Linked DNA regions of Homo sapiens: regions 1, 3 and 4 are each reported to be linked to region 2. The links are microRNA targets in miRTarBase. Many come from high-throughput screens and were not tested one by one. Region 2 holds a microRNA gene; each other region holds the end of a gene's coding sequence.
Evidence for each region. Region 2 holds the annotated microRNA hsa-miR-8070 (AUGUGAUUGACGGCUGACUCCA, at 3,406-3,427, shown strand). A microRNA usually pairs through its seed, bases 2 to 8, with sites in the 3' UTR of a target mRNA and lowers its output. Matches are read on the target gene's strand: a 7mer-m8 pairs with bases 2 to 8, a 7mer-A1 pairs with bases 2 to 7 and ends in A, and an 8mer does both.

Region 1 (7,117 bases), not on the chromosome of region 2:
TTATATCCTGTTATAATTATTTGTAGTGATTAAGAGTTTACACTGCCTGAATTCAATCTCAGCCCCACCACTAACTGGCTTGTGATCTTTAACAAGTTTCTTAACCTCTCTAACCTTTTTTTAAGAGTTTTCTCATATATAAAATGAGTGTCATAATAGTACTTTGGTCATTCATAAGATTGTAGGAATTCAATGAAATAATGCATGTAATGTACTTATTGCAAAACTTGTGCATAATAATTTGTATCTTGGATAAAGACTGAGACTACTAGATTGTGAGCTTTCTGAAGACGGGTTGGCTGTGTTTAGAGAACTTCATATCTCCAGCACAGAGCATAGTTCCCCTTAGTATGTTGTGTAAGCTGTGTTGAATTTATATTTGTAAACTAAAATATTGTTTCATTTTTTTCCAACAGTTTTAACACAGGCTAAGCGGTATGCTTTTTTTATGCCAACTCTGCCAAGTTTGGTCTCTTTTTGTCGAGCATTTCCTCCATTGTATGAGGATATTATGTCTTTGCTGATCCAAATAGGGCAAGTTTGTGCCTCTGATGTTGCCACTCAGACAAGAGACATTGATCCAATTATTACACGTAAGTGGTAACTTATTTTCAAGGGTTATCTTAATATCTCAAACAAAAAGGCCAAATTCCTTTCCAAATTTCTTGGCCTTAATGTTTTTTTTCCCTTATGTTGTAGGTCTTCAACAAATAAAGGAGAAACCAAGTGGATGGTCTCAAATCTGTAAAGATTCATCTTATAAAAATGGATCCAGGGACACTGGAAGCATGGATCCTGATGTACAGCTCTGTCACTGTATTGAAAGAACAGTAATTGAAATAATAAATATGAGTGTTAGTGGAATTTAAAACAAAATTTAAAACAACAAAAAGTTGTTTGCTGCATATACCCAACATGAATCTGCATATTAGTAACAACTCTAAACTGAATGGGAACAGTAAAGTATTGTCTTGGAATCACTAAAACAATTCAATTCAACATGAGTATAGTTTAGAACTTTATGAGAATTATGCTTGCTTGTTTCTGATTGGCACATCTTTGGATCTACTTTGCTGATATGTTTCTATTGTAGCAGCTGAGCTTTTTTTTTTTCCACTGGGAACACATGTAAGAAACTCATTATTGGAAAGGGAATTTGGCCTTGTATTTAGCTTTTGAAGTGAAGACTGCCATGCCTTTAATTTCTTATAAAAATGAGTCTGTGGGTAGCCCTAGTGTTTATTTTAACTGTGAGCTTGTAACAGAATGTGACAAAGATGCAAAGATGGGAGAGGAAAAAAGGGTAAAGGGAAAGGAGAATTAAGGAAATAATAGGAGTTAAAAACACAAGTAGAAATCTCAAAGATTTGCAGTGCAAGTAATAGTAATGCAAGTTGGAATTCTAGTTCTCAAGAAAGAGTATTGAGAAGACTTTTAAAAAGGCAAGTAGCTTTTGTAAATGATTTCTGTGGAAATACAGATGAGGATTTAAAGATTTCACATATTTGCTTCAATTTTTATTAATATATGAAGCCATATGTTTAAAGAGATACTTGAATAATTTGGAATTTTAAGATACTGGTGTAAAAGTGTTTACAGAAACATCTTTGTTCAAAGAAGAACCTGAGAGATCTCATTTAGTTTTATGTTTTAAATTTATTTTTATAATGCTTTATTAACTTACCTAATGCTCAGAGGGGGGAAATATGTATCAAATTAAATGAAGGTAGAGCAATAAAACCCACTGGATTAAAGAGCTCTTGGTTTGTCATCAGGATTATAATTCATATCTTACTTTGAGAAGATCTTTGAGTAAGAAAATGCAGTGTTTGAACCTGAGGAAAAGTTAAAGTGTAGAAAATATTGTCTTGCCGAAGGATTTTGCAGTCCTCTGTCAGTAACTTCCATTGATTAGGCAGACATATTCAGGTAAACCCTAATCATTAAAAAAAAATTATCAATGTAGAAAGTAATTCCCTTTTTTCTCTCTGAGATATACCTCAATCACACACTTCCCCACCCCCACTTGAAACAGACCTCTTCACTTGTGTTTTTTTTTTTTTTTTCCTGAGGTGGAGTCTTCCCCTGTTGCCCAGGCTGGAGTGCAGTGGGATGATCTTGGCTCACTGCAACTTCTGCCACCTGGGTTCAAGGGATTCTCGTGCCTCAACCTCCTGAGTAGCTGGGACTGCAGGCACGCGCCACCTGTATTTTTGTATTTTTAGTAAAGACGGGGGTTTGCCATGTTGCCCAGACTGGTTTTGAACTCCTGGCCTCAGGTGATCTGCCCACCTTGGCCTCCCAAAGTGCTGGGATTACAGGTGTGAGCCACCGCACCTGGCCAGACCGCTTCACTTGTAAAAGAAATTAGGCTAATAAGAAGGTGTAGTTTTTGAGAAATGAAATTTAACTTTAGCCTTTTCACTAGTAAATAGTCACATCTCATTTTCTTCCTTTGTAAAATGGGGTTACTACTGGCCCTACCTCATATTCTATGAGAATGAGTTTGTAGCTGTTTCAAATCATGAAGTGCATAGTATCACATGTGATAGAATATTTATAACTTTTTATTAGATGCTTAATGTTCAATTAAGTAATTTTGATGTGAAAAATAAAAGTAATAAAAGTATCTTAAAAATAGCATAAGAATTTTCATATTTTTAAACAAGGCAGTTTTGTAGTCCCTTAAGATTAAATACAACTGCTCCTTTTTTTTTTAAACTGAGGCCTTGCGATATTTTGTGTGAATAGATATGCCCTAGGAGTTCAGAAAAAGTTAAAAGTATGTTTTCTAATTAAATGCAGTGCACATTCCTGGATCAATATTCAAAGACTGGTCATAACCTGCTGTGTTAAAATAATCACATATGCTCTTTTTCATCAGATTTGTTGATGATGTAAATAAAATGTGTAAATATATTAGTAAATGTTAATATTCATGTATTTTAAGTTAAGGTTATAAAATTTGTCACAATGTGTTTTTTTATTCAAGTGAAAACAGATGTGTGCAGCTATTTTGAATATTGGTTTATAAACATTCATATTCTTTATCAAACGAACCTGTAGTTTTTGTGTTTCATTCCACTAGAGTTAACCTGAAGGGAACGGTTCAAGGGACTGTATTCGAGGTCTGTATGGCTCCAGGGCCTACGTGTATCCCTTTCTGTTATGCCACATACATTAAATGGCAATGCAAGGTGAGAGCCAGTTGAAACTCTTAGTAATTTAGGAGAGGAAAATGAGAGTAGTTATACTAGAGCAGTTACTCAAAAGAGTTGATTTTTTTTTTTTTTGAGACGGAGTCTCGCTCTGTCTCCCAGGCTGGAGTGCAGTGGCGCCATCTCGGCTCACTGCAAGCTCCGCCTCCTGGGTTCACGCCATTCTCCTGCCTCAGTCTCCCGAGTAGCTGGGACTACAGGCGCCCGCCACCACGCCCGGCTAATTTTTTGTATTTTTAGTAGAGACGGGGTTTCACCGTGTTAGCCAGGATGGTCTTGGTCTCCTGACCTGGTGATCCGCCTGCCTCGGCCTCCCAAAGTGCTGGGATTACAGGCGTGAGCCACTGCGCCCGGCCAAGAGTTGATGTTTTAAAAATTATAAAAGAGAAATGACAATTTGAAGGTATTTTTAAGGATTTATTTTTAAACATTATCCTTCCTTTCATTGTCTTAACAGTAAATTACTTCATCTTTGCTCATTCATATGTATTTTCACATTACTGAATCCCTAACACCCAGTTTGGGGTTTGCTTTGCCTTTTTTCACTTAACCTTATATGGGATTTTTTCTTGCAAGTTTAATTTTTATAAGTTTATTGGCTTCATAATGTATTGAATTCATCTGTCATAACCACCTCCATATTACTAGACTGGGAAGTTCATAATTTTTTTCAGTATTACCAATAGATATTATTGTCAATTGCGGTATCACATTTTCTTTCGTTTAGATTACGTCTTTAGGATAAATATCTGGAGCTCAGATTACTAGGTCAAAGGGTAGAGTTTATTTTTATGACTACAAGTTTTGTCATTTTTGGTAAGATATATCACAATTGACAATGAGGCAAACAAATCAACTAGCCCCCTCCTGCTCTTTCTTCCCAGCAAACTCCTTCCCCAAACTAGTTACTTGAATTTGAGAAACAGTATGAGGTTTTGCCTTTTGGAGACATTATTATTTGAGCCAAGTTTAGGTTATACAGATTTTTTAAAAAAATAACATGATTTGGCAAGATCATGATGAACCTCCTTTTCTTTGAGTAAATTAAAGTACTACTGGCAAATAATAAACTGGTCTTAGGAGGGATGGAAGGCGGATAAGCCTTAATGGAAGTAGAAGTGATCTGATACTGGAGACCCTGAGAGCTTGTCTCTGGCTTATTTTAGCATCCGGGAAAGCCTTGAATATTATGAAAGATAGATTGTAGCCCGATGTCACAGAGCCTTCTTACTTAAGTTTGGCTCAGCAGTCTGGCAATTCCCGCCTGAGTCTTCGCTATCCTGGCTACTGCAAAGCTGGGTAATTTAAATTGAGTGGCACTGATAAATGCTCAAAGAACTTGGCAAAGCTTAAAGATACTTCCTTTCCGCTGGTCTACGGACGTGAAGAATGAGACTTCCAGTTTCCAAGGAATTTGCTGCATAGACTCTATCGCCGGTTTCAAAAGTCAAACTGAGACGACTTTCTACTTTAAACAAACACTAGGGATTTGCTGGAGTGGCGACAACCTTCCGCCGCGTACCTTGAGCCCTTGTTTTTTTTTTTTTTTTTCGGAGACTTCCATTGGATGCCGAAGTTCTCGCCCCCTCACCTCGCACCGGGACTGGTTGATTCCTGGCCTTGGCGGGTGATTGGTCGAGCTCGCTGGGCTATTGGGCGCTGGGAGTCGAGGGGGCGGGAGGCGGGAATTCGTCTCGGGTTGTGTGGTTGAGGGGTCTGGTGGGTCGAGGAAAGGTAACGGCGGCCCCAGTCCTGCACACAAGGCCGGGGAAGTAGCAGCACCCCCAGGAAGAGGGAGGAGGAAGGGCTCGTGCCCTTTCTTCTCTTCCAGGGCTCCGCTTTATTTGCTCTCAGAAGTCGGTTTCCTTTCCTTTTCTTCAGTGAATCGGAGCTCAGAGCGTTGCTTCGGTTTCCCTCCAGACAGGCAAGTCGGAGGGAAGTCCACGGAAAGGGCTTGAGTTCTTCTGCACAGCCTGCGGGCCCATGGGTGGTGACTGGATCACCAGGGTCTCGGGGATCTCAACTGGCTGGGGGAGGAGGGAGATACGGGGCAGAAAACCTGAGGAGGGAGCCTATCCTTACCTCCTTTGAGCGCAGGCCTGTTCTTAGCCCGGGCGCTGCGTTAATTCTTGGCGGGAGGCAGAGGGGTGTGTTTATCCTTTATGCAATGTTTGGGGGAAGCTACCCCATTTTGACACTATTGTTGCCACAGCCGGGGTACAGGACGGGCTGATTTCTAGATTATATCTGAGTAACTAGGCCAGCGTTGAGTTGTTGATTCATATTAAGAGGTTAGATTCCACCATACCTCATTCTCAGAGCTTTACAGATAGAATCGCAAAATGTTAGAGCTGGAAAATACCCTAGAATAATGGTTCTTCTTTTGGAGCACACAAGCAGTGGTGAATGTTATTATTGGCTTCATAATCTATTGAATTGCTATTTTAACCATCTCTTCGTCCCCAGGTTGAATTTACAATTTTTTCCCACGACTGCAAATAATTCCTTATTTAATAACAGTGCATGTAATTTCCCCCGCTATTTTGATTTCCTTGAGATATATTTACGGGAAGAGAAATCTATGGACTTTTTCTTCAGAAAAATGCAATCATGTACAGAAACTTATGCTTGCAATTTCAAGAGGTCATTGTCTCTGAATTACATCCGTGGATCCTAGGTTAAGAAAAGTGGTTTAGAAGAGGTGAGGATTAAAGTGATCCTCATCTGTATCAGATCCTGGGTTAGGTACATTCTGCCCTGGCTAATTTTCATAAAAACCCTGTCAGGTAAGTAGTAGTATTTCAATTCCATATATGGAGAAACAAGCTCTGAGAAGTTAAGTGATTCACACAGTGGAATTCAAACTTAGGATTGCCTTACTCCAAAGCCCATCCTGTTTCTATAATACTCTACTGATCTTCAAATAACATTTTTGAGTGCCTACTATGTGCCAAGGCATTCTCTTTCTTATAACAGCCTTTAAATTAAATTAGGGGTTATCACAGGTAAGGATCTTAGACTAGAGAAGTAAAAAGATATGTCAAAGATAACATACCTGAGTCAAAGATAACATACCAGGCAGTATACCAAAACCTGGTATAGAACCTATGCTTCCTGACTTCTGGTCAACAGCTTTTTTCTTCTAACTGGAGGACTGCAGAAAGGGGTAACACAAAGGGGAAGAACTGGAGAAAGAGTGATGCTACGGAGTTGTAGAGAGAGAGGCCTCAGGAACTTATTTGTTTCTGTAGGTTGATTACATCTGATCTAACTGTTACAAGAGCTCATGTTTAATCTGGTATGTACTTTATCATATTTGCACATTATTTCACTTAATCATTACCACAATCCTATGGGGTACATGCAGTCACTGTGGCTTAGAGAAGGTAACTAACTTTCCCGAAGTCACACAACTAATACCTGGCAGAGTGAAGGATACAAATCTAGATTTGTTAGACTCTAAGACATGCTCTTGACCGCTGTGATTTATAAGACTAGGAAATTATTTTGTTTCCATTTGTTTTGTTTATACTTTTATTAATTCCAGTTTCTGTTTCCAGATTTCTCCCTTAGTTTTGGTTCTCTGGTTTTCTTTGTAAGGCGTGTCTCAATATTTGACATTTTCATTTCTGTTGTAGTTAGGAATCTGAAATAAACAGGAAAGCACTATGTCTTCAATGTGGTCTGAATATACAATTGGTGGGGTGAAGATTTACTTTCCTTATAAAGCTTACCCGTCACAGCTTGCTATGATGAATTCTGTAAGTATTTTTCAGCAGTTAAGTTTTTATTAAGATATAGATACTTATGACCCATAAAGTACATTGAGTATTTGACTGCATTCATATTCTCAGTAAATGGAGAATATTTTCTGGGTTCACTTGGAAGAATATCTAACC
Region 2 (7,122 bases):
AGTCACTTAAATGCTCTGAACCTCCACTTTCTTAGTAGATAACCCGAAGATATGCTGTGGGTGCTAAAAAGTCATAGTTATATCCTTGACATGTGTTAGCTGCCTAATGAATGGTAACAATTTTCATTAGTCATTGTTGTGGGTTGAATTGCATCACCTGACAATTCGTATGTTGAAGTCCTCATCCCCAGTGCCCTACTTAGAGAGTGACTTTATTTGGAGATAGGATCTTTATAGAGGTAATCAAGTTAAAATGAGGTCATTCTGGTGGAGCCTAATCCAATATGACTGGTGTTTTTATAAAAAGGAGAAATTTGGACACAGAGACATGCGTGAAGAGAAGACAATGTGGAGAGACATAGGGAGAAGGTGCCATCCGTGCCAAGGACACAGGCCTAGAACAGATCCTTCTGCACAGCCCTGAAAAGGAACTCACCTACTGATACCCTAATGTTAGACTTTCAGCCTCCAAACCATGGACAATGAATTTCTGTTGTTTAAACCAGCAGTCCCCAACCTCTTTGGCACCACGGGCTGGTTTTATGAAAGATAATTTTTTCACCAGGGTTGGGGGGTTGCAGGGGAATGGTTTCAAGATGATTCAAGCACATTACATTTATTATGCACTTTATTTCTATTATTATCACGTTTAATATATAATGATATAATTATACAACTCACCATAAGGTAGAATCAGTGGGAGCCCTGAGCTTGTTTTCCTGCAACTAGGTGGTCCCATCTGAGGGTGATAGGAGACAGGGACAGATCATCAGGCATTAGATTCTTTTTTTTTTGGGAGACAGAGTCTTACTCTGTCGCTGAGGCTGGAGTACAGTGGCGTGATCTTGGCTCACCGCAACCTCCGCCTCCCGGGTTCAAGAGATTCTCCTGCTTCAGCCTCCCGAGTAGCTGGGATTACAGGCATGCACCACCACGCCCAGCTAAATTTTGTATTTTCAGTAGAGATGGGGTTTCACCATGTTGGCCAGGATGGTCTCGATTTCCTGACCTCGTGATCCCCCTGCCTCTGCCCCCCAAAGTGCTGAGATTATAGGTGTGAGCCACCATACCCGGCCTAGATTCTTATAAGGAGCATGTAACTTAGAGTGGTACTGGTCTGTTGCCTGGGGGTTGGGGACCCCTGGTTTAAACCACTCAGTTTTTGGACTTTGTTTCAGCAGCCCTAGAAAACTAATATAGTTATTTTCATGCCATTCTGTTGCCACCTTCCCCTGTTCTGGATGTGCCTTGTAACACCTACTAAGTAACTTGTAACACCTAGCAAGTCTGTGGTCATGGCTCTATGTTCACTGCCTCAACTGTTCCAGAGTGGTCAGCAGGCCCTTGGGAAGTCATAAAAATAGTATTTATTGACGTTTTCAGTACTTTATACACATTTCATTAGATAAACTCTCACAACAACTCTCTGAGAAAGATACTATTATTGTCCCCATTTTATACCTGAGAAAATTGAGGCACAGATATGTTTAGTAACTTATCTCACATCTATGAAGTGGTACAGCCAGGAGGTGAATAGGTCCAGACACTTTGACCCCAGAGTCCTTGACCTTCGTTCTCACAGTGAGCTCTTAGTAGCCCCCATGCAGACAAGCTTAGAGATGACTGGAGTTGAAGGAATAGTAAGTCTGGATGGCCACTGCTCATCAGTAGGACTCTTGGCAGCAGGATGAAGCTGAAATCTCCATGCCTCTGCAGTGGCCTCTGAGGATCTACCACATGGCATCACTGGAAAATGCTGGACAAAATGCCCTGCCCTGCCATCTGCAGATCACTGAGCCCGCCAAGGTATCTCACTGGTCACAGCTCAGAACTGTTGCTCTCATTTTAGGTTCTGTCCCTTTTATCTTTCAGGCTTTCCCAAAGCTGCCCCTGATGAGTTTTTTGGTTTTCTGCCCACGGAACTCATGTAGAGAACCACTATGGAGGTGCAGAATGCCATAACAATGAACAGTGTGGGAGGCCGCAGTGGCACAGTGGCTCACGCCTGTAATCCCAGCACTTTGGGAGGCCAAGGCAGGTGGATCACCTGAGGTCAAGAGATCGAGACCATCCTGGCCAACACGGTGAAACCTAGTTTCTACTAAAAATACAAAAATTAGCCAGGCATGGTGGTGGGTGCCTGTAGTCCTAGCTACTCAGGAGGCTGAGGCAGGAGAATCACTTGAACCCAGGAGGCGGAGGTTGCAGTGAGCCGAGATTGCACCACTGCACTTCAGCCTGGTGACAGAGCGAGACTCCATCTCAAAAAAAAAAAAAAAAAAAAAGAGTGTAAGCCCTGATGTCAAATGTCTGGATTTGGATCCTGGCTCTGTTCCTTCCAGTCTGTGTGAACTCAGGTGACTCATTTAACTTCAGATCATCACCTGTAAAATGGTGATAACAATGGTACTTATAGGGTTGTTCTGGTGGGGATTTAAACGAACACATGTATGCCTCTTGGACCAAACTTGAAGAGTACTTAATACATGTTGACTTTTATTATACAATCAGTGGGATGGGATAGAGTGCTATAGTGGTAACTGTCTAGAAGTGCATTTATTCCAGAAAGAGGACTGAACTGTATCCGGTTTATAGTAATGAATTCATAAAATTTCAATAACTTGCCATCCATATTACAAAAGAAACACAGAACTTGATACGTATGTAGTTATTTTAGGACATTTACAGTTTGGTAGAAAATGTGCATGGTGTACAGTGGCATATCATAAAGATTTGTTGAATGAATGAGTGAAATGTGAGATAAAGCCAGCCATGAGACATCCTGGTTCCTGGCACTGCACGAGGTGGGAAGCACAGGCTGGCAGAGAGATGCTTGGGCAGCTATGATAAAAGCGGGACTGCTCAGTTGTCCAAATCCCCAATTCTGGAGAATGAGGTAGTTCTGACCCAGTCCAGAACAGAAGGTAGAGGAGTGAGAGAGTGGCATGAATCTCAAGAATCTCACCATCATTGTCAGTGGGGGTGCTGGCACCAAGGCTGGTGCTGAGCTGGAGGGAGCAAAGAGAAGAGGGCGGAGCCCTGGTCAGTTGGGCTCCAGTCCAAGTGGGGAACTAAAGGGAAAGCCAGGGACCTAGAGCCTGTCAGATAGACAGAAAGACTGTTCTATGGAAATTAGGGATGACCAATGGCTCTGTGCTCATTTAGGGATCCCTGCATCACTCAAGGGATCTCTCGAGATAGTCATGGGGCAGCAGAAGCAGAAACACTGCAAACTCTGATCACCATGTGAGCCACGCCTGACCCCATGTGGGTGAAACCTGATCCTACAGTGGTTCCCATGTGACTGAGGCCTGATTCCATGTGAGTGAAGCCTGATCATCATGTGAGTGAAGCCTGATCATCATGTGAGTGAAGCCTGATTCCATGTGAGTGAAACTTGATCCCATGTGATTGACGGCTGACTCCATGTGAGTGAAGCCTGATCATCATGTGAGTGAAGCCTGATCATCATGTGAGTGAAGCCTGATTCCATGTGAGTGAAACCTGATCCCATGTGATTGACGGCTGACTCCATGTGAGTGAAGCCTGATCATCATGTGAATGAAGGCTGATCCCATGTGAATGAAGGCTGATCCCACATGATGAAGCCTGATTACCATGTGAATGAAGACTGGTTCCATGTGGGTGAAGCCTGGTTCCATGTGAGTGAAGCCTGATCCCATATGAGTGAAGCCTGATTACCATGTGAATGAAGCCTGATTCCATGTGTGTGAAGCCTGGTTCCATGTGGGTGAAGCCTGATCCCATGTGAGTGAAGCCTGCTTCTCTGTGAATGAGACCTTATCACCATGTAAGCTGAGCCTGCCTCCTGTGCACTGAGGGCAGGTCCTCACACCTGGCAGCTGGGAGAGCATGCCAAGGACTGGGCTCCAGCTTGCATATTGCAAGACAAAGGGACCACACCCAAGCCCAGTGAGAACAGGCAGTTCCATTCTGAATAGACAGAAGGGACATGCAGCTTGCGTTGGCAACCTTCTGCCTCCTGCATTTCTTAAAGTGGAGTCGATTAATGGCTTTCCAGAAGCAAGGGAAAGATTTCTACTGTGCTCATCATGAAGAAGTGTAAATTGTTACAATCTTTTCAGAGGGTGATTTTGCAGAATTATCAGTACATAAAAGATGGTAATTGCAATGTTGTTTGTGGCAGTGAAAAAGTGGAAATGGTCTAAATGCCATCAACAGAGGACTGGTTAAAAAACTGGAAGTACCTTTGTACTATGGAATAATATGCATTAACTAAAGGTGAGGAAGTAAATACGTATGCATAGACATGGAGAGGTGACCACATTATCACATTATATTAAATGAAAAAAGCAGGTTTCAGAAGAATGCATCAGTATCAGCTCATATGTATAAAAAAGAGTTAAATGCATGTAATGTAAATGTCTGAGTAATGCATGGAACAGACCCAAAAGGATGCAAACCAAATAAATGGTAGTTAATTCTAGAAAGAGGGATTGATGGGAGATGGGAGAGAGAGGAAAGGAAACAGGGAATTTCACTTTCTATGTAATAGGTTCCTGTACTATTTGCTTGTCATGTTTTGTGTTATAATAAGCATGTACTACACCTTGCTTTTAAAAGATGTAAAAAAGAATCTCAAAATAAAACTTTGTTATGTTAGTATTCGGGTTTTATGTTTTCTTGGTTGGCTTCAGGTTTAGAGCAAGTTGCTTGTTTAGATAAAATAATATTGTGTGGCTTTTTAAAGACACCAAGAGCCTGTGGAGAGGCTGGCAGTGAGGTTGAGATTTATCAGGAGGTCAGAGGGGTGGTCCTACTTCTCCCTAGCAGGGGGGGTTTGGGCAAGAGAGAACTTCCCAGGTGTGTCACTCACTGGGGTGTGAAGTCCATTCATTGGCCACCTTGAAGGGCATCCAGTGGGCACTCATTGGGCACTAGGAATTATATTCAGCACAGTGTCAGACCTCATGCTGGGCTTAGCTTGGAGCACTCTGTGGGGAATTGAGCTGAGCATGGCATAGAACTCTTGGCCAGATTGTATGTTTGGGATGGCTGAGGTCATCTCACTGGTCATTGCCCAGGCAGCACTACCTTATAACTCCCTGGGCTGAGGGTGGTCACTGCATAGAGCACTTGAGTGGATAATGCATTAGGCACTGGATGGAATCCTATGTGCACCACTGCACAGGACACCTTGTAGAATTCTTACTGGATCCTACACAGAATGTGACTTTCAGCATCATAGTTGACACCATGCAAAACTCTGAACTGGTCTGTGGGAAGCACCCTTTCTGGGCACTACCATTACCCCAATAATGGGCATGAGCGGGCAGCTGAAGAGGCTAGTTCTTGTATCCCAGACCCACTCAGTAGACACCTTCCAGGAGCAGAGCCTATTCTATGGAGGAAACTGCGCTACAGGCCGACCAGGGCAGCCACGTCCCAGGCACTGGGGAAGGGAGGGAAAGCAGTAGAGCCCACTCACATATGCTGCCTCCTTCTTGCTGCCAGAAAGGCTGCAGGGCTTTGAAAAGATTCGTTTGCACAGTGAAACTCTGAGTAAATAGAAGCCACCGTCAATGGTGCGTGTACATCTGAGAGGAGCGTGTGGAGTGAAGGCAAACATTTCCCAAAGAGCTTGGAAGGAAAGTGATGCTCTGAGGTAGGTCTGTGCCAGGCTTGCTGCAGCTTGGATGGCAGACCCTTGACTGGGGGTGTGCCTTGGCCTGCGGAAGTTCCCATCCACATGAGTTGCTTTAGTGCCTATTACATCTCACATAAGAGGCAGTAAAGACAATCAAATATCTCAAGTGGCTCCTGAGACCCTTCCTGAGAGTTGCTGCACCCTCAATGCCAAGATCAAAGCCAGCCCACAGGAGATAAGATGCAGGATGGCCGGTTGCGCACCCTCATTAGTAAAGAGATGATTCCACGTATTTCAGGTTTACAGAGATTTAGAGTTGCCCCTCAGTAACCAAGAAATAACCACATTTCGTAGATTGAGGAATCACTTGGGAATGCTCAAGCAGAATACTGTGTCTGCTGAATTTAGGAGACCCACAGGAGAGGTGGCGTTCACCCCTCCTAACACCAAAATGCAACCAGAGGCATTTTGGACCAGCTAGGGCAGCTCTTTCTGTGATTAAGGAAGGCAGGTGTCTGTGCCTGGGAATTCTCTCACTCTAAACTAAGGAAAGTTACTCACACTTTTACCCAAATTCTTCATCTGAGCTGAGAAGAAAATGTTGGCTCTTCGTGCTGCTCCACTTGGCTCAGTCTCCTCATTGTTCCCCAAATATGATGAGTGTTCCATTTCCCTGGTTTTGTCTCCTCAAACTCTCCTTTCTAATAGCTTTTAAAAATACAGGTAAAATTTGCATAACATAAAATTAACAGTTAACCATTTAAAGTGTACAATTCAGTGGCATTTAGTAATTCAGTAGTTGTGCAACCATCATCTCTGTCTAGTTCCAAGTCATTTTTATCACCCTCAAAGGAAACTGTACCCATTAAGCAGTCATTTGCCTTTCACCGCTTTCCCAGGTCCCTGGCAAACACTGGTCTGCTTTCTGTCTCTATGGATTTACCTACTCTGGATATTTCATATAAATAGAATCATACAATACATGACGTTTTGTGCCTGGCTTCTTCTACTTAGCATAATGTTTTTGAGGTTCATCCACTTTGTCTTAGTAGCTTTTTATGGACACTGTGGTATAGAAAGAATGTAGTCTTCGGAGTCAGAGAGACCTGGGTTTTCATTCTGGCTCAGCCATTTACTAGCTGTGTGTTCTGGGAAAGTTATTTACCCTTTCTGAGCTTCAGTTCTCATTCATGAAATGAGAAGAATAATCCCTACCTCATATATAGTTGTGAGGATTAACAGATAATATACGTAAAATCACCTGATGTTGTATCTGGCACATAGTAGGCACTCTCTAAATGTTTGAGGCATAAGGATGAAGTTAAATATGAGAGCACGATGTTCATAGTATGTTAATTCCTTGTCTTTGCCCCTTATTTATGCATATTTTTCTGTGAACGCTTTCCTGCCTAGTGGCAGCTTTTTTCTCTGAATTCCTTCACCCTCCCTTCCCCTTATCTGAATAATTTACCTTACACTGAACATTCACTGCC
Region 3 (7,122 bases), not on the chromosome of region 2:
CATTGGCCTTATTCCTTTGTAGACAGATGAGCTGTCATCTGATACGGACTTATCACAGTTCTTCAGTGCCATCTTCCCTTAGTGCTGTTCACTGTGTAATTCTTCAAGTCTGACTTCCCCAGTTAGGTGTTTGGGAGCAGGTGTTTGCATGTGCTTCTTGAGTTTTCTCATGGCTTAAACCGGGACTGAATGTATTGCAAGCATTTTAACACTCAGTGGCATGTTTTTATTCCAGGTATGAGTTGCCTTTTGATAGGCACGATTGGATCATAAACCGTTGCGGGACAGAAGTTAGATATGTGATTGATTATTATGATGGTGGTGAAGTCAACAAGGACTACCAGTTCACCATCCTGGACGTCCGTCCTGCCTTAGATTCACTTTCGGCAGTATGGGACAGAATGAAAGTCGCTTGGTGGCGTTGGACCTCGTAAAGCACTGTTTCAGATGGAAAAATATAAACTATTTTTTTCTGAGCGATACATTAAACTATTTTCCCCAGATTGAATTGCACTCATGATGTAATGGGAACTTCAAGTGGGTAATCACACTTTTTCCTTCACTTAACGAAGGATACTATGCACTGTTCACTTTTGACTTGTGTTGTACCTTGCAGTTTATAGCAGATCATTTTGTTTTCTTCCTACTTAGCTTAAGTGGGAAGCAGTCTCTCAGTTTTTCCTTTACCTGCAGTATTGTCTGTATATTTCATCTCGAAAAGCCTGAACAACCTCTGAAAAAGAGCTTTTAAAAAGTGATGAAAGTTGCTTTTTTTTCTTACTATTTTCTCAGGAATACTCCAGAGATGTAAAGCCTGAGAGTCCATGGTGATGCTCAAGAGCTTTCATCTGGCCAAATATTTTAACTAAAGCTGTTCATTATAAATAAGAGGTGATTATACCTTTTTTAAAAAAAGTTACCATTATTTCTAAAGCCCCTATGGTATGATTGTGACCTTTAACAAAATGCAAAGGTATACACTGGAAAGGTACTCAGCAAAATTCTCTCCAAATTCTGATTTATATGAATTTCTTGGACTGGATAGAGTACTTTCAACTATACCTTCCTTTGGAACATACCTTTTAAAAAATGTTCCCTTTAAATCCTGTTATTCTAATATGTAACTCTGCTCCCAACAAACAGGTCTCCTCATTGTCCTTGGCATTTGACAAGTTATCCCAACTTCGAATCTCATTTCTTCCTTTGCTGGCAGCCTCCACCCTTCCCCACATCAGTCGGCCTAATCCAAACCTTGAAAGCCTGGCTTAAGTCCCAGTATCAGTGATGGTCCCCCTCTAAAACATGATTTTATATTTGGCTGAGTGTTAAAATTCACAAGATGAGCATTTTTTTCCCAGATGGAGAACGCTTCAACTCAGTCTAGATTTTTTTTGTTTGTTTTAAGGAAGCTCTAAGTTTGCCATTGAAACTTTTTGTACCAGTAATCCATAAACTGGTTGTTCTATTTATAGCAGCATGTTACAAATGACTGCTTTTTTTTTTTAACTGTCTATACTATTAAATCCTTTAATTTATCCTGAATGCTGTAGTGTTAAATTAGTGGATGAAATTGGCAGTCTGTGGGTGATTAATTTGGTATGGATTTGTCAGTTTTGTGTGGAGTTTAAGAAATAGAACAGCCTTAAACTCTACATTTCAAAATACTTGTATATTTTAAAATAAAGCTGATTAGTTCACAGGTTTTGAAAATTTTTTGGAATAATTTTACACTTAACGATTGTTTCTTCAGACGTATTATCTTTATAAAACCAATGCTTTATGATAGAATGATTTATAACCCAGCACACATATGTTTATTGCAGCACTGTTCACAATAGCAAAGACTTGGAACCAACCCAAATGCCCATCAATGATAGACTAGATAAAGAAAATGTGGCACATATATACTACAGAATACTATGCAGCCACAAAAAAGGATGAGTTCATGTCCTTTGCAGGGACATGGATGAAGCTGGAAACTATAATTCTCAGCAAACTATCACAAGAACAGAAAACCAAACACCGCATGTTCTCAAGAGTGGGGGTTGAACAATGAGAATACATGGACACAGGGAAGGGAACATCACTGGGGCCCGTCTCGGGGCCGGGGGGGGGTGGGGGGGGTTGGGGGGGGTGGGGAGGAGGCTAGTGGAGGGATAGCATTAGGAGAAATACCTAATATAGATGACGGGTTGATGGCTGCAGCAAACCAGCATGGCATGTGTATACCTATGTAACAAAAGTGCACGTTCTGCATATGTACCCCAGAACTTAAAGTATAATAATTTTTTTTTAAAAAAAACAATGCTATAGTCTCCCTACTCCAAGCAGCCACTTTTTCATCTACTAATCTTTTTTTTTTTTTTGAAATGGGAGTCACGCTCTGTCACCCAGACTGAAGTTCAGTGGCACAATCTCAGCTCACTGCAACCTCCACCTCCCGAGTTCAAGCGATTCTCCTGCCTCAGCCTCCCGAGTAGCTGGGATTACAGGTGCATGCCACCACGCCTGGCTAATTTTTGTATTTTTAGTAGAGACGGGGCTTCACCATGTTGGTCAGGCTGGTCTTGAACGCCTGACCTCATGATCCACCCGCCTTGACCTCCCAAAGTGCTGGGATTACAGGCGTGAGCCACCGCACCCAGCCCTAATCACATATTTTTAAACTGTAGAGGAAAATAATTACTGTTGGCATTTTTTGGGGGGGTCTTAAGTGCTATCGAATGAGTGTGGGATAAGACATTCTTATGAAAGACAAAACACTAACTGGAAACAAAAAATATGCCAAAGGCAGGATTCACCTGTTTTATAGGACTGTGGTAAACAAGCTTTAAACTCAAGCAAACTTGATGACAAGATCAAGTTTTATACATCGTTTTACTACTTCCAGAAAAAACCATGGCTTCCTGGATTGTCAGAGCTGCTTTGTGTCTAGATTATGCTTGATTGGGTCCAGGGGTCAATACTGATAGGAGTTTTCGTGTACAGCTTGAAACTCATTTAGGATATTCTCTGGAGTTTTAAACTAAGTCTTGTGTCTGTGGAAATAGCACTATTCAGAATCAGAACAAATTACTGAACATCAGGCTAAGTATTGGCAGACAAGCTGGGGCTACAAATGGATTGCATATTAACATTTAGTATTCCTGTCAGTCACTGGCTAACAAAATGTTTATGTCCCCTTTGTGCATCGTATAAGGAATACAAAATTGCAAAAGGTATAACCCTGATATGGTTTGGCTGTGGCCCCACCCAAATCTCACCTTGAATTTTAATAATCCCCACGTGTCAAGGGCAGGGCAAGGTGGAGATAATTAAATCATGGGGGCAGTTTCCCCTATACTGTTCTCCTGGTAGTGAATAAGTCTCAGGAGATCTGATGGTTCTTTAAATGGGAGTTCCCCGCACAACTTCTTTTGCCTGCTGCCACGTAAGACATCCCTTTGCTCTTCCTTCGCCTTTCACCATGATTGTGAGGCCTCCCCAGCCATGTGGAACTGTGAGTCCATTAAGCTTCTTTCCTTTATAAATTACCCAGTCTTGGGCATGTCCTTATTAGCAGCATGGGAACAGACTAATACCCCTACTTGCAGGGAACTCAACAATCTTATGGACAGTCTATAAATGAAATGGTGGTAAATGCTAGAACTCCAATTTAAGGAACACATTGTGGTAACACACAGTGTGAGAATTCACGTAAGTATTTTTGAATATTTAGAGATAGTTACCAATTTCTTTACTGAGTCATCATTATGGTTTATCTTCTCCCAGAGATTGCTTCTTAGGGAAAATGAAGCAATGCACATTTCCTGTCTCACCTTTGCAGTGACTGTCAGAATTGTATGACCCGTCATTTGTGTCACCATAGGCTTGAGGCTGTGTGTGTGATGATTACAAATGTGTGTCCTGGAGGCAGAGTCCTTGCCCTGCCCTTTAGTCGCTGTGTGATCTTAATGTCTCTGGGCCTCAGCTTTCTCGGCTATGAAATGAGAGTAATAGAACCAACTTATCAGAGTTGTTTTGCAGGTACTTTGAGGTGATGCCTAAAAGCGCTGGGAACAGAGTCTGTGGGTGGAAATGTTCAGCAAATATTAGCTATCACCATTGATCAACAACAGCAAGGAGAGAAATCAAAGTGCTGAGATATAATCTACTTCTCTCATCCTCTGGCCTTATTCCCCGCCCCACTCCGCCACCAGGAGAATCAGTTTAGAGGGGTAACAGCAGGCTCTAATCCCCATTTTGATCAATTTTAAGGATTACCAGGTGTTTGGGTGCTTGCTCTAAGAAAGCTCATGTTATTTAAAATCATCAAATGGAAAAAGAACAGGTTACAGCCTTTGATCTTTCAAAAAATATCAGGGTAACAAATTAGGTACTTGATATGCAAGTCCCACTTGACAAAAAGAAATATTATATTAAGACAGATACCCAAGCTGGAGTGCACTGGCATGATCTCGGCTCAATGCAACCTCTACCTCCTGGGTTCAAGTGATTCTTGTGCCTCAGCCTCCTGAGAAGCTGGGATTACAGGTGCCTACCACCACACTCAGCGAATTTTTTTGTATTTTTAGTAGAGATGGGGTTTCACCATGTTGGTCAGGCTGGTCTTGAACTTCTGACCTCAAGTGATCCACCCACCTCGGCCTCCCAAAGTGCTGCGATTCTTGTGCTTCTTAATCTAAAATATAGCTCACTGTAATGTCCTTTGGGTCACAAGGTTATCCCCCTCTGTGAAAATATATTACATATCCGGATTCAAAACATATTACAAGGTTGTTTACTGCAAAGAAAAAGATCAAAAATTATTTCAAAAGCCATGTATATTCCTTGTAACTTAAGGTAACATTTAAAAAATTATATAATTTGGGGGGTATATAGTATATCAAAATGAAGCATATGAATTATGCCTTGCGCCACTCATGACAAATAATATCACGTTTTCATTTATAAGTGGGAGCTAAATGATAAGAACACAGAGGGGAACAGCACACACTGGGGCCTATTGGAGGGTGGAGGGTGGGAGGAGGGAGTGGCTTAGGAAAAACAGCTAATGGGTACTAGGCTTCATACCTGGGTGACAAAATAATCTGTACAACAAACCCCCATGACACAAGTTTACCTATGTAACAAGTGTGCACATGTGCCTCTGAACTTTAAAAAGAAAAACATTTACTGCTGCAGTAGAGATTGTCACTGTACCTTCAGTAAAATTTCATGCCATTGGTGTAAGTGGTAAAGTGTCTATTTCATGCTTGTGCACTCTCTAGTTTGGAAGAAAAAGCTGACAACACTTTCTGCAAATGATTCAACCGGAGGTTTATACATCACATTGCAAGTATTCTAATGTTTTTGTGGAATCATACCAGATGCAGGAGCAAACATAGTTCCTAAGACTGGTTTAGGGAATGAGGCATGTACATATGGGTGCTATCTTGTATTTATAATTAGCTTTTCATTGATGCTTTTACACACCAAAGGTCATATGTGATAGGGGCACAGAAATAATACATCTTGAGTGTTGTAACAGAGGAATTGTGAGACAAGTCTTCACAATCATAGACGAGTGAAGTCCTAAAGAACAATGAAAAGTTACTATTTTGAAAGTTACTATTTTGGAGCTCTGTGCAGAATCATCATTTAAACACTTTGCTATTCCTTCTACATTTGGGATAACAATGTGACTAATTCCCGTGCCCCTTCAATGGTTTGCTATAGAATATTATCAGGATGCTTTTGGCTTCTAGTAAGTGAATCCCTGCTTGAACTCACAGCCAGAAGTGCAGAGGTTGGGTGTACACTTGGTTGATCCTGCTTCTCTGGACTCCCTTTCCTTCCATGTTCAATTTTAACTTCATCCATGTAGGGCTGGTTCCTTTCATCAGCGTCAATGCTTCCTAGTTGCTTTGAGATCCTTGTTTATGGTCAGTAGATATGAGGTGGGGTGGGACCCGGCCATCTACCACAACCATGGGAAATAAGGTTTCTCTTCAGTCTAATTGGGCCAATTCAGCACTGGGCCTGTGTCCTACCACCCCTCCCATTTTATGTTCCTGTGCGTGCTTCATGCTTAGATTAGCTCAGACAAATCATCAGGAGGACATGTAGTGACCACAAGAGGATTCCTTCACTGCTGATTTAAAATCCCATTCTTAGACATCATTTCATTAAGGTCTTTTTCCTTCATCTGAACCTTTTTAAAAATTTTTTTCTGAGACAGAGCCTCACTGTAGTGCCCAGTCTGGAGTGCAGTGGTGCGATCTTGACTCACTGCAGCCTCTACCTCCCAGGTTCAAGTGATCTTCCCATCTCAGCCTACTTAGTAGCTGGGACCACAGGCACATGCCACCACGCCCAGCTAATTTTTGTATTTTTTGTAGAGACAGCATTTCACCATGTTGCCCAGGCTGGTCTTGAACTCCTGAACTCAAGTGATCTGCCTGCCTCAGCTTCCCAAAGTGCTGAGATTATAGGCTTAGGCCACCAAGCCCAGCCTGAGCCCTTTTCTTATGCCAGGGTTTTAAATCTGGAGGTGGTAGCTAACGTAATGGCATAAAACAAGATTTGAGAGCTTTGTTTCTGCACTGATTCCCTGTGTTAAGCTGGGAGATTTGGGACAAGCCACCTTAGGCCTGTAAGTCTCAATTTCCTGAAATTATCTTAAAGGCTCCTTTCATACCAAAATGTTTGTGGCCTCATATTACAATGGGCTGAATTATGTCATCTTTCAGGTTGAGAATCTTTAAGTTAAGGGAAAACAATGTGGTTTGAAACCCTATTTCAAACTAGTTTTTATATAAACTACATCAGTAGACACACTCTTAAAAGACCTACACTTAAGCGAATTCCAAGTTAACCAGTGCTTTCCTTTCCCTCTATAAAATGTGCTGGCTTGGAAACAATTCAAACATTCACCAATTAGTAAATGGATAAATACATGTTGGTATATCCATGCAATGGAATATTATTCACCCATAAAAATAAATGAAGTACTGATAAATGCTACAATATGGATGAACCCTAAAAACATTGTGCTCAAAGAGGCCAGAAACAAAAGGCCACTTTCGTATGATTCCATTTATTTGAAACCCTCAGAATAGGCAAATTTATAGGGGCAGAAAG
Region 4 (7,122 bases), not on the chromosome of region 2:
GTTTTAGCCAAGACCCATGAGAGGCTGCTCCCCCAGGGCCCGCCTGAGCTGCCCAGTGAGTCTCCCCCTCCGGAGCTGCCCCCTCCGGAAGCTGCGCCTCCTGTGTTGCCAGCCTCCTCCCTGCAGCCGCCATGCCACTGTGGGAAGCCCCTGCAGCAGGAGCTGCACAGCCTCGGTGCTGCCCTTGCGGAGAAGCTGGATCGGCTCGCCACAGCGCTGGCAGGCCTGGCTCAGGAAGTGGCCACCATGAGGACCCAGGTGAATCGGCTGGGGAGGCGCCCCCAAGGCCCTGGGCCAATGGGCCAAGCTTCCTGGATGTGGACCCTCCCACGGGGACCTCGCTGGGCTCATGGCCCTGGTCACAGACATCTGCCCTACTGGAGGCAGAAGGGACCCACGAGGCCTAAACCAAAGATCCTGCGTGGCCAGGGAGAGAGCTGCAGGGCTGGTGACCTGCAAGGACTCTCCAGAGGGACCGCTCGCCGGGCACGTCCGCTGCCTCCAGACGCTCCCCCGGCAGAACCTCCTGGGCTCCACTGCAGCTCTTCCCAGCAGCTGCTGTCCTCTACACCCAGCTGCCATGCTGCGCCGCCTGCACACCCCCTCCTCGCACATACCGGGGGCCACCAGAGCCCCCTTCCCCCTTTAGTGCCTGCTGCCTTACCCCTGCAGGGAGCCTCTCCTCCTGCAGCCAGTGCAGATGCAGACGTGCCGACCTCAGGAGTGGCACCAGACGGGATCCCAGAGCGGCCCAAGGAGCCGAGCAGCCTGCTGGGAGGAGTGCAGAGGGCCCTCCAGGAAGAACTGTGGGGTGGGGAGCACAGGGACCCGAGATGGGGGGCGCATTGATGGCATTCCTCTTCTCCACATCTGCTCGTTCTTGCCGAGGGTGCAGTGGTGGCGTGGAAGCCCTGTCACCCCACCCCAGGCCACCCTCTCCCAGAGGACGCCATCTCCCTTACTGTTGCTGGGAGCCTCGCCCTTTGTCCCAACTGGGTAGAGCCCCCAGGTGCTGTTTGCTCAGGAGGCTGCTGTGGGGGTGCCTTCCTCAGCCTCTGGCCCTCTTGGCTCAGATTCAATCAAATGTTGCTTCCCTCTCCTGTCTTTCCCACTGGAGCCGCCCAAGCTTGTAGGTGGGTGGTGTGCATAGGCCACGTGTGCCCCACATATGCAGGGGGTGCCCCACACAGCTAGAGCGGCCAGGAGAGCGCCTCCTAACCACCAGCCGTTCCTGATCTCAGGAGCCTTGAAGGGCTGGGCTCTTGCCTTCCTGGAGTAAATATTGGCACAGATTTCATTTGAGAGAACTCAGCCCCCTGGTCTAAGCTGGACTTACCTCTGTGGATTCTGAAATTAAAGAAGTGAGTTGCTAAGGAAGGCCCTGACTCCTATAGAAGGGAGGTCCATGTGGGCCCACGCTGGGGCGGGGCTGGTTGTGCCACCAGCACGCTGCCTCGTCTCCCAGACATCCTCGAGAACATTCAGGAGTGTGCCAGGAAGGGTGGGGCAATTCCCACAGGACTCCTGGGGCACACTCTGAGTCCCCTGGGGCTGCCTCACAGAGGAACCCTGCCTGGGCAGCTTCAACAGCAGCACATATTGTCTCTGTCCTGGAGGCCAGAAGTCTACAATCCAGGTGTCAGGTTCAGTTCCTGCTTTGGGCTGGGAGGGAGGATCGGTCCCGGACCTCTCCCCTTGACCTGTAGATGGCTGTCTTCCTGTTCAGATGGTGTTTTCTACACAGCTGTCTCCAGATTTCCCCTTCATATCAGGGCAGCAGTTGTATGGGGTTATGACCCACCCTAATGACTTCATTTTAACCTGATTACCTCTCTAAACACCCCCTCTCCAAGTGAGGTCACATTTGGAGGTACTGGAGGTTAGGCCTTCACCATACACATTTGGGGAGGGGCACAGTTCAGCCTGTAACACACCAAACGGGCTGGGCCAGTCTTCCTGGTTTTGTCTTGGGAAAAGACATGACCAGGTATCACTAGCCCACTTCTGTCCTGGTTACCGGAATGTGCCTGCTCCCAGCCCGCTCAGCTGGCGCTTGGCAATGCGTTGGAACCAGCCTGCCTGTCATTCCCTTGCATCATCTTCCCAAGAGGCAGAATGCAACCTGTGTGCCCCCAAATCCCTTATTTGACCTGAGGTGGTTTCAGGACCTGTATGTGCACCTGTTGACTGGCAGGGCCAGCCTGGTGTGGACTGGCAGGGCCAGCCTGGTGTGGACTGGCACACTTGGCCCTGTCCTCAGGTCCCTGAGGAGCCTGGGACACCAGCACTGTGGCCTGGGGCAATGCTGGCTGCCCACCATGACTACAGGAGCAGTGCCTTGTGGCTGCAGCGCCCAGTGTGTCCCTCAAGTCAGGGTCACTGGGGACACACTCGGGGCCTAAGTGCCCTGCAGCTGAGCTTGGGAGCTGAAGCCCTTGCTCTTTGCCACCCTGTAGAAGCAGCAGGGCAAGGACACCTGTCAGAGGGGAATGCCCGCAACAGACTGAACATCACAAAGGGATGGGAAGATGCTTTCAGGACTAGAGTGAGCCCCGAGGTGACTGTCTGGAAACAGATCCTAAGACCATACAAGTAGGATGTTTGTTGAAATACGGAGGCTGTTCGCTCACAGCCGTGCTTGCACAGAATCAGGAAGGGAAAGTTTCTAGGTTGCTCCTGCCTGAGGAGCTCTCCTTCTAATAAGCAGGGAGCAGTGCCGGGCACGTTTCAGAGCCACGGCAAGGGGTGGGACACAGTTTCAGAGGGGGGTTGAGAAGCGAAACTGCCCCTGCCCTGACTCTGGCTGTGAGGAGAGGACTCTTGCCCACCCCTGCTGCAGCTGGTGCAGTCCCATCGTGCCTGCCTGTCCTCCCATTCTCCTTTCCCTTCTAAGCAGGGGTCACTGGGCTGTCGACTCAATGGGAGGGGGGGTCACCTTACACTTCTGTGTGGCACATTAAGGTGGTTTTGCTTTGCTGGCTTCCGAAACAGCCACCACGCAAACCCTAGTTGACAGGCACGACTGAACAAATGAGCATGGTGGCTGTAAGTGACTGTCACAGTTAGGCAGCCTTCAACCAGCAGAGCTAGGAAGAGAGCTCGAGCCCTCACCAGTGCCGCCAGCACTCGGCGCATCCTCACCCTGGGCACAGATGCCCCCTCCCAGCCTTTGCCTGCTGGGACAGACCAGGGTATTCAGGACTGAGCCTGGTCTAGGTGGTCCAGACCCAGTTGGACCATATAATAAGTTTAAAGTTGTTTTAAGAATGTGGATTCTAAGTAATAAGTGGTAAGAAGTTCCATGGTCTGCAGCTGCGTTCCTCCTGCAGAAGCAGTTCCCTAGGTCTAGGTCTCCAGGACCTGTCCACAGTCACTGAAACGCCTTCTAGAATTGATCTAGTGGAAAATCTAGATGCAGTTTAGGTCTTTGGCACTGTGCCCATCTCCTTTAAGAACTGTGCAGTGTGGCTTGGAAGAGGAAATGTGGTCCCTTTGATGGGAGAAACTGAAGGACCTTTTTGAACTCAAAGGAGCTCCAGGGTTTGGAATTGGGGGCAGAGAAGGCTCCAGGCTGCTCATTCCATCCTGGGTGAGCCGAACGGGTCCTGGCTGATCTGAGTGCGACCTTCCCAGTCTGCCAGCCAGAGTCCCCCAGCAGGCAGGAACATGTGAAGGTTCCGCTTCAAAATATGAATGAATGGGCTCCTCGTGCCCCTATTATTTTCTGGCCACCCCCAGGGGTCCTGATGGAAGGGAGGCTGGCCTGCGGGGTGCAAGAACCACGATTCACTGCTCCCCGCTGAAGGTGCTTGGTCAAGAGCAGCAGGCATGCTGTTAACCTTTGTGCGGGTTTGTGTTTTGGATGTGGCTCCTATGCACAACCTATGGATTTTATCTCATAAACCATCTTGACAGATTTTGCTCGTCAACTGGGAGCCCTTAATCCATTTAAATGTAATTGACTGACTGATTTATTGAGGCTTTAACAGACTTTCTTACTTTGTGCTTTTTGTTTGTCCCACCTCTTCCGAGGGGGCTTCTCTTCCCTGCCTTATTTTGTATTAACACTGTTGTGGGTTAAAAAAAAAATCCATTTTTTCCTCTGCTGGCCTCAAAATGTAAAGAACTAAAAGGAGAAACACCCAAATTCACAATCATATTTGGGAGGTTTTAGCATATCTTTCTCTGAAAATGATGGAACAAATTGGGAGGGATGTAGAAGATTCGAACAAACTCCTTAACAAAATTGGCCTGATTGAGGCCCGTATAGGACAGTACACCATGGGGCCGGGTGCGGTGGCTCACACATGTAATCCCAGCACTTTGGGAGGCCGAGGCGGATGGATCACTTGAGGCCAGGAGTTCCAGACCAGCCTGGCCAACACAGTGAAACTCTGTCTCTACAAAAAATACAAAAATTAGCTGGGCATGGTAGCATGCACCTGTAATCCCAGCTACTTGGGAGGCTGAGACACGAGAATCGCTTGAACCCGGGAGGCAGAGGTTGCAGTGAGCTGAGATCATGCAACTGCACTGCAGCCTGTGTAAAGAGTGAAACTCCATCTCAAACAAGCAAACAAAAACTGTGTGCCATGGGACTGCTTAATATACATTCTCTTCAAGCATACACAGGACATTTACAAAAATTGACCATATATTAAGCCCTACAGTAAGTGTAAATAAATTTAAAATATTGAAATTATATAGGGTATGTTCTCTGACAATACTTTTACCTTTTAAGCTAGAATTAAATAATAACCAGAAATTCTTATATATTCAAAAATGAGAATTATGCTGCTAAAATAACCCATGTGTCAATGAAGAAATCATAATGGAAATTAAAAATGTTTCCCACCATGAAGGAAGTACCACAGGCCAGGTGTGGTGGCTCACGGCTGTTGTCCCAAAACTTTGGGAGGCTGAGGCAGGCAGATCACTTGAGTCCAGGAGTTCGAGACTAGCCCGGGCAACATGGTAAAACCCCATCTCTACTTAAAAAAAAAAAAAAAAAAAATATATATATATATATATATATATATATATATACACATACATACACATACACACAAACACACACACACACACACACACAGACAAAAATTAGCCAGGTGTGGTGGCATGTGCCTTTAGTCACAGCTACACAGGAGGCTGAGGTGGGAGAATCACTTGAGCCTAGGAGGTGGAGGTTGCAGTGAGCCGAGATCGTGCCACTGCACTCCAGCCTGGGTGACAGAGTGAAACCCCGTCTCAAAAAAAAGAAAACAAGGAAGGAAGGAGAGGAGAGGAAAGGAAAGGAACCATATCAAAATGTGTAGCATAAAGCAATATCAGTACTTAGAAATGTATAGACATAAGTGAGTATGTGGAAAAGGAAGGACAGAATTCACAAGGAGAAACAGAACAGCAAAGGAAATCCAAAGAAAAGTTAAAAAGGGCACACAAATATAAGAGCAGAAATTACTGAAATAGCATACATATAAATGATATAATCAACAAAGCCAAAAATCATTTCTTTACAAAGCTAATAACATTGACTACTAGCCTGTGATGAAATCATCAATGAAAAAAGAAAGCACAAATAACCAGTCTCAGAATGAAAAAGGTGACATTACTGCAGATGCCGCAGGCTATAGAAAGACAATAAGATGATATTATAAGCAACTTTTTGCCAAAAGTTTGAAAATTCAATGAAAATAACTCCCATAAGAATGCAACTTAGACTCAAAAACAAAACAAAACAAAACCTGAATAGTCCCATACCATTGAAAAAAAAATGCATTAGTGATCAAACATCTTACAAAAGAAACTGTAGGGCCAGGTACTGTGGCTCAGGCCTGTAATCCCAGCACTTTGGGAGGCCAAGGCAGGCAGATGGCCTGAGGTCAGAAGTTCAAGACCGTCCTGGGCAACATGATGAAACCCTGTCTCTACTAAAAAATACAAAAAATTAGCCAGGTGTGGTGGCGTACGCCTGTAATCCCAGCTACCTGGGAGGCTGAGGCAGGATAACCACTTGAACCCGGGAGGTGGAGGTTGCAGTGAGCCAAGATCACGTCCCTGCACTCCAGCCTGGGCAACAAGAGAAAACTCCATCTAAAAAAGAAAAAAGAAAAGAAACTGTAGGCCCAAAAGGCCTCACTAGTAAGTTCTATCTCACATTTAAAAAGGAAATTATTTCAATAATATACAAACTATTCCAGAGAATGGAAAAATATGGGACACTCTCTGACTCGTTTTACGAGACTGGCATAATCTTGAAATTTCCAAAACTTGAGGACAGTACAAGAGAACAAAATTACAGGCTAATCTCAAAAAATGTACATAGGAAAAATACTCAACAAAATATTAGCCAAAGAGAATCTAGCAATACACAAAATGTTTTACTGAGTAAAACATCATTACCCAGTTGGCTTCATCTTGTCGATCAAGAATGGTTTCAACGTTTGAAAATCACCAGTGGTAACCCACAATAATAGATTAAAGGGGAAAAGTCACATGATCATCTCAATAGCTGCAGAAAGATCACTTGATAAGAGCCAGCACCCATCAATATTCCAAGTGAACTGGGATGAGAAAGGAAATTTCTTAATTTGATGAGGATTATATACCAAAAAAAAGATGATAGCTGTATTAGCCTATTTTCATGGTGCTAATAAAGACAGACCCAAGACTGAGTAATTTATAAAGAAAAGAGGTTTAATGGACTCACAGTTCCACGTGGCTGAGGAGGCCTCACAATCATGGCGGAAGGTGAAGAAGGAACAAAGGCATGTCTTACATGGTGGCAGGCAAGAGACTGTAGGGGAACTGCCCTCTGTAAAACCATCAGATCTCATGAGACTTATTCACTATCATGAGAAAAGCAAGGGAAAAACCCACCCCCATGATTCAGTTACCTCCAACTGAGTCCCTTCCATAATGTGGGGATTATGGGAGCTACAATTCAAGATGAGATTTGGGTGGGGACACAGCCAAACCATATCAATAGCTAATATGCTTAATGGTGACATATTGAAGTGTTAAAAACCAGTATACCAAAACTAAGTTATATTTACATATACCCACAGCCAACAGTTAGAAAGTATTACTTTAAAGATTTTATTTGTAGTAACAAAAAACTCA

Region 1: the mRNA of INTS2 is a reported target of hsa-miR-8070. Seed matches in the 3' UTR shown: 7mer-m8 at 2,003-2,009 and 7mer-m8 at 2,860-2,866.
Region 3: the mRNA of HCCS is a reported target of hsa-miR-8070. Seed matches in the 3' UTR shown: 7mer-m8 at 544-550.
Region 4: the mRNA of KRABD3 is a reported target of hsa-miR-8070. The part of its 3' UTR that is shown has no 7-base or 8-base seed match.

What each region holds. Positions count from the first base shown.
Region 1 is chr17:61,861,309-61,868,425 of GRCh38, reverse strand. It overlaps INTS2 (integrator complex subunit 2), which reads left to right. Exons shown (of 25, transcript NM_001351695.2): 24 at 417-593; 25 at 700-3,059. The coding sequence ends at 869. It overlaps BRIP1 (BRCA1 interacting DNA helicase 1), which reads left to right and starts at 4,898. Exons shown (of 20, transcript NM_032043.3): 1 at 4,898-5,142; 2 at 6,857-6,979. The coding sequence starts at 6,887.
Region 2 is chr11:11,779,496-11,786,617 of GRCh38, reverse strand. It overlaps MIR8070 (microRNA 8070), which reads left to right and starts at 3,396; the gene lies at 3,396-3,483.
Region 3 is chrX:11,121,377-11,128,498 of GRCh38, forward strand. It overlaps HCCS (holocytochrome c synthase), which reads left to right. Exons shown (of 7, transcript NM_005333.5): 7 at 236-1,710. The coding sequence ends at 434. Among named protein-coding and RNA genes, the nearest start is that of HCCS, 14 kb to the left of the region's middle.
Region 4 is chr7:149,733,199-149,740,320 of GRCh38, forward strand. KRABD3 (KRAB domain containing 3) reads left to right here. Exons shown (of 17, transcript NM_001290187.2): 17 at 8-1,377. The coding sequence ends at 849. LOC124901771 (a long non-coding RNA gene) reads right to left here. Exons shown (of 2, transcript XR_007060585.1): 2 at 6,676-6,814. Among named protein-coding and RNA genes, the nearest start is that of KRABD3, 22 kb to the left of the region's middle. RefSeq lists an enhancer at 1,863-2,779.